4 linked regions of the Homo sapiens genome follow. The protein of the gene in region 2 purifies or fractionates together with the protein of the main gene of each other region. This does not show direct contact. Each region holds a gene or a part of one and is shown on either strand. Other genes may lie near its edges.

Region 1 (3,500 bases), on a different chromosome or scaffold from region 2:
ACTATGGGTGAACTCTTACTTCTTTTCTTTTCTTTTTCTTTCTTTTTTTTTTTTTTTTTTTTTTGAGACAAAGTTTTGCTCTTGTTGACCAGGCTGGGGTGCAATGGTGCAATCTCAGCTCACTGCAACCTCCACCTCCTGGATTCAAGCAATTCTACTGCCTCAGCCTCCCAAGTAGCTGAGATTACAGGCATGTGCCACCACACCTAGCTAATTTTTTGTATTTAGTAGAGACAGGGTTTCACCATGTTGGTCAGGCTGGTCTCGAACTCCTGACCTCGGGTGATCCACCCACCTCGGCCTCCCAAAGTGCTGGGATTACAGGCATAAGCCAACACACCTGGCCTCTTACTTCTTTTCTCTGATGAACTCTCAGGCTCTTTTGCTACCTCAAATTGCACTATGACCTGTCAGGTGTTAGAGAGATCAGCAGTGGAGAAAGTCCCAGGAAACAATCTGGAATCAAAAGGGGTCTGCCCCTCTCCTGGACATATCAAATATGAAAACATCACATTTACCAAGAGACAACACCATAAGAGGGTAACTGACAGAAACCAATTCCATCCTGAAAATGCTCTGAGGCTTTAAACATACTTTATTGTCTAGACTTTGGGCCTCAGAATACACCTGCTTTTTCTCCCACTATCCTGATGAACTCTGCACTCTAAAATTTTTCTCTGTACCAATTTAGCAAACCTCCATTTATTAGCAACTTTAACCTCCAGATCCTTTAGATGACTTTCATTCTTCTTTGTCCTGGATATTTTTACATGACAGACAAAAATATCTATTCTCAGAGCTGGAGGAGATAAAAATGTTTGCCCTGAAGGTAATGAACTCTTGATTTAGCTAAAACTTTTTAAAGAGTATATATTAAATATAAATACAGTATTATATAAAATTATAATGTGACAAATTCATTGTGAAATAGTCCATTTTTCTGCTATAATACTTTTTATATAGTTTTTTACAAAAAAAAAAAACAAGGTAAACTTAGTAAAATGGAGCAGAAGAATAAAGAAGCAGAAAACAAACTTATTCTAAGACCTGAGCTGTGTTTTAAGATGAAAGTGGTTTCTGCTCATTGGCAAGAAGAGAAAAATCCTAGACATTATTTCTCTTGCATCCTAGGACAGTAAAGAAAGTGTGTCTCAGCCAAATAAGTCAAGAGACTGTCACCTTCTGCCAGATCTTGGAGCAATTCTTATTCTTCATTAGTTCTTTTTTTTTTTTTTTTTTTTGAGACGGAGTTTCACTCTTGTTGCCCAGGCTGGAGTGCAACGGCACAATCTCGGCTCATTGCAACCTCTGCCTCCCAGGTTCAAGCGATTCTCCCCAGGTTCAAGTGATTCTCCTGCCTCAGCCTCCCAAGTACCTGGGATTACAGGCGCCTGCCACCACATCCAGCTAATTTTTGTATTTTAGGCTGGTCTTGAACTCTTGGACTCAGGTGATCCACCCGCCTCAGCCTCCCAAAGTGCTGGGATTACAGGCGTGAGCCACCACCCCCAGCCTCTAGTTCTTTTTTATGAATTATTTGATTAAGTGCTGTTAAACACTCCCTAGCACTGCAATAAGTGTTTTATATAACTTTTTTCAACCTCACAACTATAAAATGGGCCCATTTTACAAATGAAGGACTTGGGGCTCAGAGAGGGCAAGGAATTTGCTCAGTCACACAGGTAGTTACTGGTGGAGCTATGCCAAACTCACGTCAGTCTGAATCAGACATTTTTCTTCTGAACTTTTATACTATACATTATACTTGCTTTATCCAGTGACAATGCTAAGTTCATTAAGAAGTGAGAAACAACTTCTATGTATAGTATTCCCAAGTACCTCATGCAATCCTACGCAATTCCACAAAATGTTTAAGAATTTTCTATCCCCCTTCTCTTTTAGCAGTATATTCCCCACCAGAACTAGCAGGGACAAGGTAGCTAAGGCTAGCACCGTTTCAAAACATTTTGCTTCAAAAGTGTTTGACTTCATCATCTCATTAATAGCTACAAAGAATCAAAGAGAACAAAGGAACTTATTCTACCCGCCCCTTGATCCTTTTATTAGACCAACTTACTCAAGGGAATCAATGATTTTTTTTGGCTCCACAGGGCACGGATAGATAACTTCATCGATGTGCTTCAGGTTACAATTTGAATAGGCAGTAGAGATATGTATAAAGGCTTCCAGCTTTGGCATCTGACTAGCCATAAGCAAGAGCTGCCGGGTGGCAGTGACGTTAAGTTGCACAGCATGTCTAGAGAAGATTAAGCAGAAGGAAATACAATGAAGTAAGTCAGTATCATGCCTTGCTATAACTGCACCTACTCCAATAACTGGCATACCTATCAGATTTTGGTGGCCGCACCAAAACACCAGGAAGAGAAGGATGGGTCATGGCTACACAGTTATGTGATACTCGGAATGTTTTATGTAGTGATGATGTGTTTTGTGCACATAAATCCTATTCACTGACACACTGTACATATATCTAGAGGACAATTGGTTCTAATCAACCGGAAAAAGAATTACAATACTCTGAATTTATAAAGGTGCTTCTATAGGCAGCCATTAAAAGAACACAAACATGTAAATTAAGCATCTAACTGAAGAAGTTGGAAAATGTAAATAAACTGGAGGGGAGCAACAGTACATTTTTTAAAGGAGCAATGTAAGTTGCTCTTGTAAAGATCCAGGCAAGACATGAAAATTGATGTCAAAATCTAAAATTGCAGCTAGTAGAATGCAAAGCTATATAAACAGTATGTGATAACAATGAAATAGTTCATTCCAGGAATACATGGTTTATCAAATACCAGGAAACTTACTAATTTAATTTAACTCAAATGAGAAAAACTATATAAGAATCTATATGTATTTTGAAAAGTTTAAAATGACATTTAATTTCCATTTCCAATTTAGTTAAACAAATTCACTAGAACTGGTGAAAAGCTAGGAGCACTGCTTGTAACGTCAGTGGTAGGAATAATGCCTACAATCACACTACTACTTAACATTGTTCTGAAGTCCTAGCCTTGGAATTAATTAGAAAAATAAAATTAAAGAACAGATATAGATACTAAAAAGACAGCCACAAAAATTACTGTCGGATTATATAATTGCATACATGGAAAACAGAAGCAGCTTTTTAAAAAAACTGAAATGTACTATAATTCAGTAAGGTGTCCACTGATAAAAATTACGTTAAAAGGCCGGGCGCGGTGGCTCACGCCTGTAATCCCAGCACTTTGGGAGGCCGAGGCGGGTGGATCATGAGGTCAGGAGATCGAGACCATCCTGGCTAACAAGGTGAAACCCCGTCTCTACTAAAAATACAAAAAATTAGCCGGGCGCGGTGGCGGGCGCCTGTAGTCCCAGCTACTCGGGAGGCTGAGGCAGGAGAATGGCGTGAACCCGGGAAGCGGAGCTTGCAGTGAGCCGAGATTGCGCCACTGCAGTCCGCAGTCCGGCCTGGGCGACAGAGCGAGACTCCGTCTCAA
Region 2 (5,755 bases):
CAAAAATTGGATAAATATGTCTACAAGGTTTTATTAAAATTAAGTTTAACATTAATAACACACTTAATATAAAGGTGAAATTTAGCTTATCTGGTATAAAAATCATACAGGAAGCTTGTCAAATATAAAATGGTGTTTGGCTTTCTTTGGTCTAAAAACTAATAAAAATAGGTGCTAAAGGAAATTTCTCAGTAAGAAGGCACCAAGGACAATAAAGTCCACTGCTGATGTCCCCACATTTAAAACAAAAGGTCAGTTTCTTAGAAATCATATACTCGGTTTATCTTCCACTTTCCTTTCCCTCAAAACTAAAAGTCTTTTAGCACAGGTACCACCCCTAGAATTTCCGGTAAACCAGCACCAGCCTGAAGATCACATTCTCATCAAAGGGTGGAAAGAAGGAAAACTGCAGCCAGCCTGGCAAGGACTCTACCCTGTGCTGCTAACCACCGAGACTGCTGTTGTACAGCGGAAAGGGGATGGACTCACCACACCTGAGTCAAGAAAGCGCCACCCCTTCCAGAGTCACGGGCCATAGTCCCAGGGGAAAACCCTATCAAACTAAAGCTAAGAAGAATTTAACTCTCTTTCATCTATTCTATTACTCTTTCTTCTTTCCTCGCTCTATTGCTGACCATCTAGTTATTAACATAACCAAGTCAATTTCACTTCAAACTATTGCATTTGATGCTTGCCTTGTTATACCCTGTGGGGACTTGCCAAGTCAAAGACAGCTCTCTACTTCAGAAAAGTACCTCTGTCCCTCCTGACTCTCCTCAGACTGGGTATTAGTGAATTGGGACCATTTAATCCTGGGAGATTTTGATAAAGACCCCAGTGTCAACCAGGAGTCTTGCCCCGCGATGTAGAGCTTTTATACCATAGTTGGTCCAGGGTTCTGTGGACCACTAAAGAGCAAGGATGGACTGCCCCAACCGGTTTTTGTAATTTCCTAAAACCATACATTCATCTTACTAGAGGGACAGCCCCCGCCTCCCACTAACTGTCAGCTAAACCAGTGCAATCCTATACAGGTTATTACCTTGAATCCTCAAAGTTCTTTCCCTTTTCTAAGCCAGTTCCCTTCTTTAAGCCAGTGTTATGGTATGGGGGCTGAGGTTTCAGGGACAGACCCTATTGGATTCTTTGAAATGCATTTCTTTGAACCCCCACCGCCTGCACCTTCCTCTAAGCCTTCTTCCAAAACCTCTCACATGGAACAATTGCTCCTCCTCCATCTAACAACAAGACCAAGATAGCTATCGTAGAAGCGAAAGACTTAAAACAAACTTTGGCAATTAAGACAGGATACCAAGATGCAAATGTCTGGTTGGAATGGATCAAATATTCCGTCCGCACATTAAACAAAAGCAATTGTTATGCTTGTGCACCCAGCAGGCCAGGGGCCCAGAATGTCCCCTTTCCACTAGGGTGGTCCTCCAGTTGACTGGTTGTGGGCTGCATGGTAGCTCTTTTCCAGGATTCTACAGCCTGGAGTAACAAGTCGTGCCATGCTCTTTCTCTCTGCTATATTCTGAAGTCTGGCACCCTGTGGGTCGGCCCCCGAGGGTCATCCAGCTTCCATCTCCCAATACTAAGTTCACTTCATGTCTCTCACGACAGGGAGGAAACTTAGCATTCCTTGGAGACCTGAACGGATGCAGTGAGCTTAAGAATTTTCAAGAGCTTATCAATCAGTCAGCCCTTGTTCATCCCCGAGGGGATGTGTGGTGGTATTGTGGTGGACCTTTACTGGACGCTCTGATGAATATCTGAAGTGGCACTTGTGTTTTAGTCCAATTGGCTATCCCTTTCACCCTGGCATTTCATCAACCAGAGGAAGGAAAAATAAGACATCGTAAAGTGAGAGAAGCCCCTTATGGGTCTTTTGACTCTCACATCTATTTAAATGCAATTGGAGTCTAGCAGGGAATACCAGATCAATTTAAAGCCTAAAATCAAATAGCTGCAGGATTTGAGTCAATATTTTGTTGAGAGACAATTAATAAAAATATAGATTGAATAAACTACATATGCTACAACCAACAGCGATTTATTAACTACACTAGAGATGGTGTTAAAGGAATAGCTGAGCAATTAGGGGCTACTAGCCGGATGGCTTGGGAAAATAGGATAGGCTTAGACATGATAATAGCAGAAAGAGGAGGAGTTTGCCTCATGATTAAAACTCAATGTTGTACCTTCATCCCAAACAACACTGCCCCTGATGGAAGTATAACAAAGGCATTGCAAGGTCTGACTGCCCTGTCCAATGAGTTAGCCAACAACTCAGGGTTAAATGAGCCCTTTACAGGATGGCTAGAAAAGTGGTTCAGTAAATGGAAAAGAATTATAGCCTCAATTCTCACTTCCCTGGCAGCCGCAATGGGTGTATTTATTCTTGTTGGGTGCTGTGTCACACCATGCGTCCGTGGGTTGGTGCAAAGAGGCTCATAAAAACAGCACTTACTAAAACCTCCCTTAACTATTCTCCACCTTATCCAGAGAAGCTTCTTCTTTTGGAAAATCAAGCAGAACATCTAAGCCAAGACATGTTAAAGAAGTTTAAAGAGAAAGAGCTGTAAGGAAATGCAAGAGGAGAAGTTGTTAGGTATGAGTTCTAAATTTCTCTTCAAAGAATCAGTATGTCAATATGTTCAATTCTTTGCCTTCTACTTTTAAACTTAACTTCCTTGTAAAGCAACCTTTTTCAATTACCTGCTCCGCCCTGACTCATTCTGATTACCTACTCCCCCCTGACTCATTCCGATTACCGGCTCCACCCTGACTCATTCCAATTACCTGCTCAGTCTCCACCCTGACTCATTCCGATTTCCTGCTCCGCGGTAACCATTTTTCCCACCAAACCACTCACCCCATCACTCTCTTTAAATTAGCCAATCAGAATTAGTTTAGCCTGTGTGGTCTAACCCTAGCCAATAGGGGAATGACACAGCAGCAGGGGCCACGTGCATCAGGGATAAGAACCCCTTCCCCTCCCTTGTCCAAGTGTGCACTCACCATTGCTCCATCTGTAAGGGCGCACCCTTCTATAGAAGTACCTTGCCTTGCTGAGAATTAAAAAGAAAATTTTATATTTGAGTGCTATTTCTTTTGCGGCACAGAAACTTCACTTATAACAGCACCATGCAAAAGACACTAGCTACTAGCACTAGGACATGGGATCAATGACATCCAAGTCAGGGCTCCTCCTACCTCTGCCTTTGACTCTGCTCCTAAGGACAAATGGGTTGGCATCTCCTTCTGCTGAGGCTCATCTTCTTTTGAGGGTTCCTTCGTCTTTTGGGGCTGCTTCTCCTCCTGCAATCAGCATTAGGGGAAAGGCAAGAGTGAGGCTGCGGTCCCTCCCTCTCCATTCAATATGGCACACATCCCCAGCTTCCAGGGCTTCTTAGAGTCTTCAGTGTCAGGGGGTCCCTTCACCCTGAGAGATCTATGGGGACATCCCTAACAAGCCTGGTGTGTCTGGCTTTCTCTTACCATTGGTCACATATGGATTGATTGTAGATGGTTCAAATCCCCTCACATCTGTGTTCATCCAGCCATAGCATAGGCAGGAAGGGTGGAGGAAGAAAGGCCTGTGATGTCATAAGGGCACCTGTGACTCAGGCACCAGATGGCTCCTAACAAGTGAGCCCCCTCCAAGGGAAAGACAAAAGCGCTGCCCATTCTTTTCTGCCAGAAATGGCCAAAGCCCTGACTTCAAAGGCAAGATGCCAGAAATACTGGCCCATTGCTGTAAGGTTTATAAAAAGCCAGTCATTTCTAATAACATTTAATTGAAAAAACTTGGCCAGGCGCAGTGGCTCAGGCCTGTAATCCCAGCACTTTGGGAGGCCGAGGCAGGCAGATCAACTGAGGTCAGGAGTTCGAGACCAGCCTGGCCAACATGGCAAAACCTTGTCCCTACTAAAATTACAAAAATTAGCTGGGTGTGGTGGCTGTCACCTGTAATCCCAGCTACTCAGGAGGCTGAGACAGGAGAATCGCTTGCACCCAGGAGGTGGAGTTTGCAGTGAGCCAGGATCATGCCACTGCACTCCAGGCTGGGCAAGAGAGCAAGACTCCATCTCAAAAAAAAAAAAAAAAGAAAAGAAAAAACTTATATAGCCAACTTAAATAATCAATAGGGGATTAATTTAATGATGCATAGTTCATTCATACTATAAAATACTACATAACTATTAAAAATAAGAATTTGATCTATATTACTAATGAGGAAATATATAAAGATGTATTTATAAGTAAAAAACTAAAGTTCCTTTTGATCCCACTATGCAAACAAAACTAGGAACATAATTATACACATAAAATTGAATAATTTATGCCAGAAGTTATTACATGATACACATTATATGTTGTAAATGAATATAAAGAAGAAAAAAGGTATATATACCAAACTATTACCAATGATTACCTTTGGAGAGGAGAGTTAAATTGCTGACTCATGCCTAACACAGTCCCCAAGGAACCCCATGAGGGCCTGAGGACCAGCCTGGACTCCATCTGAGGCTCAAATGGGTCCAAGTGCTCTCCTGTCTTCCTCTGTCCCTGGGGTCTCAAGGCCACAATCAGATGGATGAAGGTGGCCACTGCACAAGCATGGCCCCTTTCTGCCTGATCTCGGCCTCTGAAGACCCAGCTGGACAGGGTAAGGCCATGAGAGGCACAGCCCCTGGGGTCACTGAGAAGTGCACTTGAAATGTATAGGGTGAGTATGGGAGAGGCCAATGTGGATCTGTAGGGGGAATGTAGGGAAGAGGAGGAGGCCATTTGAGGCTGGGATGTGAAGTTAATGGGATGAGGGGGTGGAGAATATGGGAATACATTGAAAGATGTGGGAAGTTGTGGGTGTGATATAGTTTGGCTCTGTGTCCCCACCCAAATCTCATCTTGAATTTTAACTCCCGCAATTCCCATGTGTTGTGGAAGGAACCTGGTGGGAGGTGACTGAATTATGGGGGCAGGTCTTTCCTGTGCTGTTCTCATGATAGTGAATGAATCTCAAGAGATTTGATGGTTTTAAAAATGGGAGTTTGGGCTGGGTGCAGTGGCTCATGCCTGTAATCCTAGAACTTTGGGAGGCTGAGGCGGGAGGATCATGAGGTCAGGAGATCAAGACCATCCTGGCTAACACGGTGAAACCCCGTCTCTACTAAAAATACAAAAAATTAGCCAAGTGTGGTGGTTGACACCTGTAGTCCCAGTTACTGGGGAGGCTGAGGCAGCAGAATGGCATGAACCTGGGAGGCAGAGCTTGCAGTGAGCTGAGATCATGCCACTGCACTCCAGCCTGGGCGACAGAGCAAGACTCCATCTCAAAAAAAAAAAAAAAGGCAGTTTGCCTGCACAAGCTCTCTTTGCCTGCTGCCATCCATGTAAGACGTGATTTGCTCCTCCTTGCCTTCCACCATGATTGTGAGGCCTCCTCAGCCATGTGGAACTGTAAGTCCAATTAAACCTCTTTCTTTTGTAAATTGCCCAGTCTTCAGTATGTCTTTTCAGCAGCTGAAAATGGACTAATACAGTAAATTGGTACCAGTAGAGTGGGGTGTTGCTGAAAAGATACCCAAAAATGTGGAAGCAACTTTGGAACTGGGTAACAGGCAGAGCTTGGAACAGTTTGGAGGACTCAGAAGAAGACAGGAAAATGTGGGAAAGTTTGGAACTTCCTAGAGATTTGTTGAATGGCCTTGACCAAAAAGCCTGATAGTGATATGGACAATAAGGTCCT
Region 3 (3,500 bases), on a different chromosome or scaffold from region 2:
ATCCCAGCATTTTGGGAGGCTGAAGTGGTCGGATCATGAGGTCAAGAGAGAACAGCCTGGCCAACATGGTGAAACTCCGTATCTACTAAAAATACAAAAATTAGCTGGGTGTGCTGGCAGGCGCCTGTAGTCCCAGCTACTCAGGAGGCAGAGGCAGGAGAACTGCTTGAACCTGGGAGGCGGAGGTTGCAGTGAGCCGAGATCACGCCACTGCATTCCAGCCTGGGTGACAAAGCAAGACTCCGTCTCAGAGAAAAAAAATAAAAATAAAAAAAAGAATTGTGGATGGATTTAAAAGGGTCATGCCCACCACCACCACTATGTTCATGCCAACAGGCTTTTACAAAATTCCATACGACAGCCAAAATAAAATCTGTACAAAATAAAATCTGTCTGCAAATAAAATCTGTTAACAGCCTTAGAAGGAGCTAACAGGAAGGGGCGAGGACCATAACTAGATACTCTCTCAGGAAAAAGAAGGCCAGCTTCCATGACTAGAAAGAAATCCAATCAGGCAAGTAGTGCACAATCTGTAAAGAGTTAGGCAACAAGCATTGGGTGGTCTTCAAAGGGAGCAGCAGAATCAGGGAGTTCCAACACAGAATAATGAGGGATCCAAACTAGTCTCCTAAAGAACTTGCTACTGGAAATCTGGGAGCAATAATTACCTGGAGAATCAAGGAGAAAGGCTATCAGTTTAATTCAGGTAAACTCAGGAAAAGCTCTCAGACTGCCCAGCCAATGGGAATTAAATGACTGAAACCAAGGCAAGAGATGAGTTGAAAAAGCTGGGAGCCATGTAAGGACCAAAAACAATTTACTCATTGATATTTATTTATTTATTTGGAGACAGAGTAAGCTGTCGCCCAGGTTGGAGTGCAGTGGCACAATCACGGCTCACTGCAACCTCCACTTCCCAGGTTCAAGCAATTCTCATGCCTCAGCCTCCTCCTGGGTAGCTGGGATTACAGGCATGCACCACCACACCTGGCTAATTTTTGCTATTTTTTTAGAAGAGATGGGGTTTCACTGTGTTGGCCAGGCTGGTCTCAAACTCCTGGTCTCAAATGATTTGCTTGCTTCGGCCTCCCAATTTTTACTGAATTTTAAAAGGTCCCAGCCATAAATGTATTTGTCCAAGTTACATAACCCATTATTAAAAATATATATGAAGATACAATTGTAAGATACAAAAGAAGATACAATTGTGAGATACAGAAGATTTCTAGATTTGTTCGACCAGAAGCACTGTGTTTGACTTAGAATCTGAGACTGATAGTAAACTATTCACAAATTATGTAATATTGATAGCACAAAGTTTCCATGGTCCTAACTTAGAGAATTTTTAAAATTTGTGTGAAAATTCACAAAAGTTAAAAGTGAAGACTATTCAACTGGTTAAGGGTATCCACAAAATAAAAACGCTAAAGCAGCAGCCAATGTAGGCTCCTATTTTTAGCCAGAAAGATTCCATTACTTAGAGATCCTCTTTCCAACCCCAACATCTTGCAAGAAGTGAAACTTGGAAGAGATCAGTAAAACAGTAATAACAACCCTGATTTCCTTCTGCTGAGACTGCACAAACCTATGGCAAGATTATCTGAAATGAAACCAACCAAAGTTTTAATCCTATATTTTGTCCCTGTCATATAATCACAGATATCAAAGACATATTAAAAGATATTCATATACTTTATAATTCAATAAAATAAATTCAAATTCATGGTTTACTTGTTTTTAAATGTAGATCCTAATGATCTTTTATTCTAACCTAAAATTATAATGGTTATAAATACTATAGACTCATAGTTTATTCCCCCGCCATACTTAAAGACACTAAATCAAAGGTACACCAGAGTTCAGCCTTACCAGCCCAACAAATCAAACAAACTTTTTTTATTTCCCCTTAAAATGGAAAGTACATACTGGCATAACTATACCCAAGTGTGCATTCAGCACTAATTATTATTTTACAAACTTAATAAGCATATTTACCTGTGGAGATTTTTAATATGAGTAGGAAAAAGTGATAGTATAAAAGCTGATAAGACCAACAACTAAAAACTAATTTTCAATAACTGCATTCTAGTGTAGCAGGTAAGAAAACTGGCCGGGCACAGTGGCTCACGCCTGTAATCCCAGCACTTTGGGAGGCCTATGCGGGCGGATCACGAGGTCAGGAAATCGAGACCATCCTGGCTAACACGGTGAAACCCCGTCTCTACCAAAAATACAAAAAATTAGCCAGGCGTGGTGGCGGGTGCCTGTAGTCCCAGCTATTCGGGAGGCTGAGGCAGGAGAATGGCGTGAACCCGGAAGGCGGAGCTTGCAGTGAGCCGAGATTGCGCCACTGCACTCCAGCCTGGGCGACAGAGTCAGACTCCGTCTCAAAAAGAAAAGAAAACAAGCTTTAGAATCTGCCTGGATAGAAATATGCTTCTACCAAGGTCTTGTGACCTTGGAGAAATAATTTAACCTTTTTTTTTTTTTTTAATCTCACTTTGTCGCCCAAGCTAAAGTGCAGTGGTACGATCCAGGCTCACTGCAACCTCCATCTCCCAGGTTCAAGCGATTCTCCTGCCTCAGCCTCCCAAGTAGCTGTGATTACAGGCGTATGCCACCATACCTGGCTAATTTTTGTATTTTTAGTAGAGATGGGGTTTCACCATGTTGGCCAGTCTGGTCTCGAACTCCTGACCTCAGGTGACCCGCCTGCCTCAGCCTCCCAAAGTGCTGGGATTACAGGCATGAGCCACCACGCCCGGCCCATAATTTAACCTTTCTATATCTCAGTTTTCTCATCTATAAAATGAAGGAAATACTGGTACGTACTTCACCCAGTTACTGTGAAGCTAAAGGGTGATCTCCTAAGAGAAGCAGTGAGAGTAGTGCTATCACCCAGGAAGAGCTCAATAAACGTTCACTTTTAAGGAAATGCATTAAGGAGCTACTCAGACAAACTTGACAGTGCAATGTCAACATACCATATTACATACCATATTCCAACCTTAAAGTAACAAGCCAATGACATCCTTAGAGTTGGCACATCCCAGTGAGGTATTCAATTTGTATACATATTTTATGCAGACCATATGTCAAGAAAAATCCTTTACTTGGTCAAATAAGTCTGAATATACTATTACATTAAATCATAATTGAGCTGTTCTTCACTTTCCAAGGGGCTACATCCAAGTAACTGCATGTTGGCTTGGTTCAGACATGCCAATGTAGTCTAAAGGAAAGGGGACTCTGAAACTACCAGCCAGATATTTTTAAACAAACAGAAGCCTTGAGGTTTTTTTAAGTAAATAAAATTGTTTGCAGTAATTATTTAGGCTGGCCATTATCTTATTCACTAAATTGCCCAACTCTACTTCTTTTTGCATGATTTTCTTAATAGCCAGTATACTAAGCATGCTGCTATTTTTCTGACTTGATTCTTTTACTTATGAGGTAAATAATATACCAGATAATCTAGAAAATTCATGGAAATCATCAGT
Region 4 (3,500 bases), on a different chromosome or scaffold from region 2:
CACAACAATATAATTGAGACAGATTTTACTTCCAGGTGGGTTAAAAAGTTAAATATTTAAAAAGTAATCCTATTTTAAAAAGAGCGCCCGGCCAGCCGCCCCGTCCGGGAGGGAGGCGGGGGGCAGCCCCCACCCGGCCGCCGCCCCGTCTGGGAGGTGGGGGGCGCCTCTGCCCAGCCACCCTGTCTGGGAAGTGAGGAGCCCCTCTGCCCGGCCGCCACCCTGTCTGGGAGGTGTACCCAACAGCTCATTGAGAACGGGCCATGATGAGGATGGCGGTTTTGTCGAATAGAAAAGGGGGAAATGTGGGGAAAAGAAAGAGAGATCAGATTGTTACTGTGTCTGTGTAGAAAGAAGTAGACATAGGAGACTGCATTTTGTTCTGTACTAAGAAAAATTCTTCTGCCTTGGGATGCTGTTAATCTATGACTTTACCCCCAACCCCGTGCTCTCTGAAACATGTGCTGTGTCCACTCAGGGTTAAATGGATTAAGGGCAGTGCAAGATGTGCTTTGTTAAACAGATGCCTGAAGGCAGCATACTCCTTAAGAGTCATCACCACTCCCTAATCTCAAGTACCCAGGGACACAAACACTGCGGAAGGCCGCAGGGTCCTCTGCCTAGGAAAACCAGAGACCCTTGTTCACATGTTTATCTGCTGACCTTCCCTCCACTATTGTCCTATGACCCTGCCAAATCCCCCCCTCGGAGAAACACCCAAGAATGATCAATAAATACTAAAAAAAAAAAAAAAAAAGAGGCAGGGCACGGTGGCTCACGCCTGTAATCCCAGCCCTTTGGGAGGCCGAGACAGGCAGATCACTTGAGGTCAGGTGTTCGAGACCAGCCTGGTTAACATGGCAAAACCTTGTCTCTACTAAAAAATACAAAAATTAGCCAGGCATGGTGGCCCATGCCTGTAATCCCAGCTACTTGGGAGGTTGAGGCACAAGAACCGCTTGAACTGGAAGGTGGAGGTTGCAGTGAGCCGAGAACGTGCTACTGCACTCCAGTGTGGGTGGACAGAGTGAGAGTCTGTTTCAAAAAAAAAAAAAAAAAGAATATGAGTGAACATTTCCTGAGTCTTAAGATAAACAAGGATTTTCTAACCAAAAAATAAAAGATATTATAAAAAAGGAAAAATTGTTAGATTTGATCACAAATATTAAATATATCTGCATGGAAAAACTATTACAAAAATTACAAGGCAAATTTCAAACTGGAAAAACACTTTTACAACTGTGACAAAGGATTGATATCTGTTACTGAGAAAAACATTTACATTTATTTATAAGAACAAGACCAGGGCCAGGCTCGGTGGCTCATGCCTATAATCCCAGCATTTTGGGAGGCCGAGGCAGGTGGATCATGAAGTCAGGAGATCGAGACCATCCTGGCTAATACAGTGAAACCCCGTCTCTTCTAAAAATGCAAAAAATTAGCCGGGAGTGGTGGTGGGCGCCTGTAGTCCCAGCTACTCCAGAGGCTGAGGCAGGAGAATGGCGTGAACCTGGGAGGCAGAGCTTGCAGTGAGCTGAGATCGCGCCACTGCACTCCAGCCTGGGTGACAGAGTGAGACTCCATCTCAAAAAAAAAAAAAAAAAAAAAAAAAGGACAAGACCAACACTTCAAATGAAAATTGGACAAAGTTCACAGACAATTCAGACAATTCACAAAGTAATATGGAAGACAACTATATTTTATAAGTTCAACGTCACTAGTAAGAAATAAACAAATTAAAATAAGTCTGTTCTGGCTGAGTGCCCCATGGCTCACGCCTATAATCCCAGCACTTTGGACTTTGGGAGGCCAAGGCGTGAGGATCGCTTGAGCTCAGGAGTTTGAGACCAGCCTAGACAGCACAGCGAGATCCCAACTCTACAAAAAATGAATAAATTGGCTGGGTGTGGTGGTGCAATGTACCTGTAGTCCCAGCTACTCCAGAGGCTGAGGTGGGAGGATTGCTTGAGCCCAGGAGTTTGAGGCTGCAGTGAGCTATGATGGCATCACTGTACTCCAGCCTGGGCAACAGAGCAAGACCCTATCTAAAACACTTTTTTTTCCTATCAAATTAATTTTAATTAGTTTTACTGGCAGTTTGGTGAATTACTGATCCTCATATTTCTGGTGGGAGTCTAATTTGGAATAACTGTCCTAAAAAAGAAAGATAGATACATAGATTTAGGAATATATATAAGCCTGAAAAAAAAAAAAAATATATATATATATTTTGAGACAAGGCCTCACTCAGTTGCCCAGACTGGAGTTCAGTGGTGCAATCTCAGCTTACTGCAGCCTCGACCACCTGGGCTCAAGTGATCCTCCCACCTCAGCCTCCCAGGTAACTGGGACTACAGGCATGCACCACCATGTCCGGCTAATTTTTGTATTTTTTTTTAGAGATGGGGCTCACCATGTTGCCCAGGCTGATCTTGAACTCCTGGAGTCAAGTGATTTGTCCACCTTGGCCTCCCAAAGTGCTGGGATTACAGGTGTGAGCTGCTGCGCCCAGCCTATTATCTATATTTTTTGAGGCACTAATTTATGCTTAGGCTATTCTAAGAAAAAAACTAGAAATACAAAGATTTATGGCCAAAAATGTTCAGTTCATTGCAACATTATGTATAACAGCATAAAAACAGAAACAACCTAAATGTCCAACCTGTACTATAGATTATGATGTAGTCATTGAAGTTATTTTTGAAGACTATATAATGACATAAGAAAATGCTCATCGTATCATATTAAGCAAAAAAGAACCCCATTTATTAAATTATATTTACACAATCCTCAGTTTTGTAAGCATGAATTCTATGTCTTCATCTAAGTCACTGAGAGAAATGTGAACAGATGGGGTTTGGAACGGATGGAAGGTTCAGCAAAGTCAGCCTCCCTTTTCTGGGTTGAGGCTAGCCCTCTTCCATTCCTCCATTAACTGAACCTTCATCTGGCAATGGTTCCCAAATGTTTCCTAGGGGAGGGCACATAAGAATTACTGTGAGAGATGGTTTAGAAAAACAAAAACAGATTTTGGAGCCTGACCCACAGAGATTTCGACTCAGGAGGTCTGAGGTGGGGCCCTGGAATCCGTGTCAAAAGGCCTCCAAGTGATTCTGATGCACAGCCACGTGCAGAAGGAACCACGGCCTTCTGGTTCGAGGTTTTGAAAAGGACATTGAACACCTTTTGTAAGTCAGCTTCTGAATGTGAGTTAGGGAAGATAATGTCAGGATGGAAAAAGCCTTCCCCCTCCTACATTTCTCCAAATACTCTGTTGCTGCTTGTCAGGTGGATGATGTGACAACTGGCCCAGCTGCTGGCCTGCAGCGCTTCCCTGCTCGGACTGCAGCTGCCAGCGCTCCCCTGCCCACCCCCCGCCCCACCTACTCACCTCCTGCCTACCCCCACCACCCCACCCAGCCCCGCCTACCCTGCAGCTCCTTGCCCTGCTCTTCAGGACTTTTGCTCCAAGTCTTGCCTCCTCTTTGTCTTCTGAGATG

What was found. The genes of interacting proteins can lie anywhere in the genome.
Region 1: the proteins of IQCF1 (region 2) and FAR2 purify together in Homo sapiens (affinity purification with mass spectrometry; 2 studies listed by BioGRID and IntAct, with this or other methods). This does not show direct contact.
Region 3: the proteins of IQCF1 (region 2) and TBC1D4 purify together in Homo sapiens (affinity purification with mass spectrometry; one large-scale study listed by BioGRID and IntAct). This does not show direct contact.
Region 4: the proteins of IQCF1 (region 2) and EHD4 purify together in Homo sapiens (affinity purification with mass spectrometry; one large-scale study listed by BioGRID and IntAct). This does not show direct contact.

Annotation. Positions count from the first base shown.
Region 1 is NC_000012.12:29,295,778-29,299,277, reverse strand, and holds part of FAR2 (fatty acyl-CoA reductase 2), read right to left. Parts: intron 2,258-3,500; coding exon 2,078-2,257; intron 1-2,077. UniProt on the Homo sapiens protein: Catalyzes the reduction of saturated but not unsaturated C16 or C18 fatty acyl-CoA to fatty alcohols (FAls). A lower activity can be observed with shorter fatty acyl-CoA substrates.
Region 2 is NC_000003.12:51,899,769-51,905,523, forward strand, and holds the start of IQCF1 (IQ domain-containing protein F1), read right to left. Parts: upstream 3,586-5,755; 5' UTR 3,505-3,585; coding exon 3,502-3,504; intron 3,322-3,501; coding exon 3,217-3,321; intron 3,057-3,216; exon of another isoform or gene 3,025-3,056; coding exon of another isoform or gene 3,022-3,024; intron 1-3,021. UniProt on the Homo sapiens protein: Involved in sperm capacitation and acrosome reaction.
Region 3 is NC_000013.11:75,472,170-75,475,669, forward strand, and holds part of TBC1D4 (TBC1 domain family member 4), read right to left. Parts: intron 1-3,500.
Region 4 is NC_000015.10:41,962,558-41,966,057, forward strand, and holds part of EHD4 (EH domain-containing protein 4), read right to left. Parts: exon of another isoform or gene 3,431-3,500; intron 1-3,430. UniProt on the Homo sapiens protein: ATP- and membrane-binding protein that probably controls membrane reorganization/tubulation upon ATP hydrolysis. Plays a role in early endosomal transport.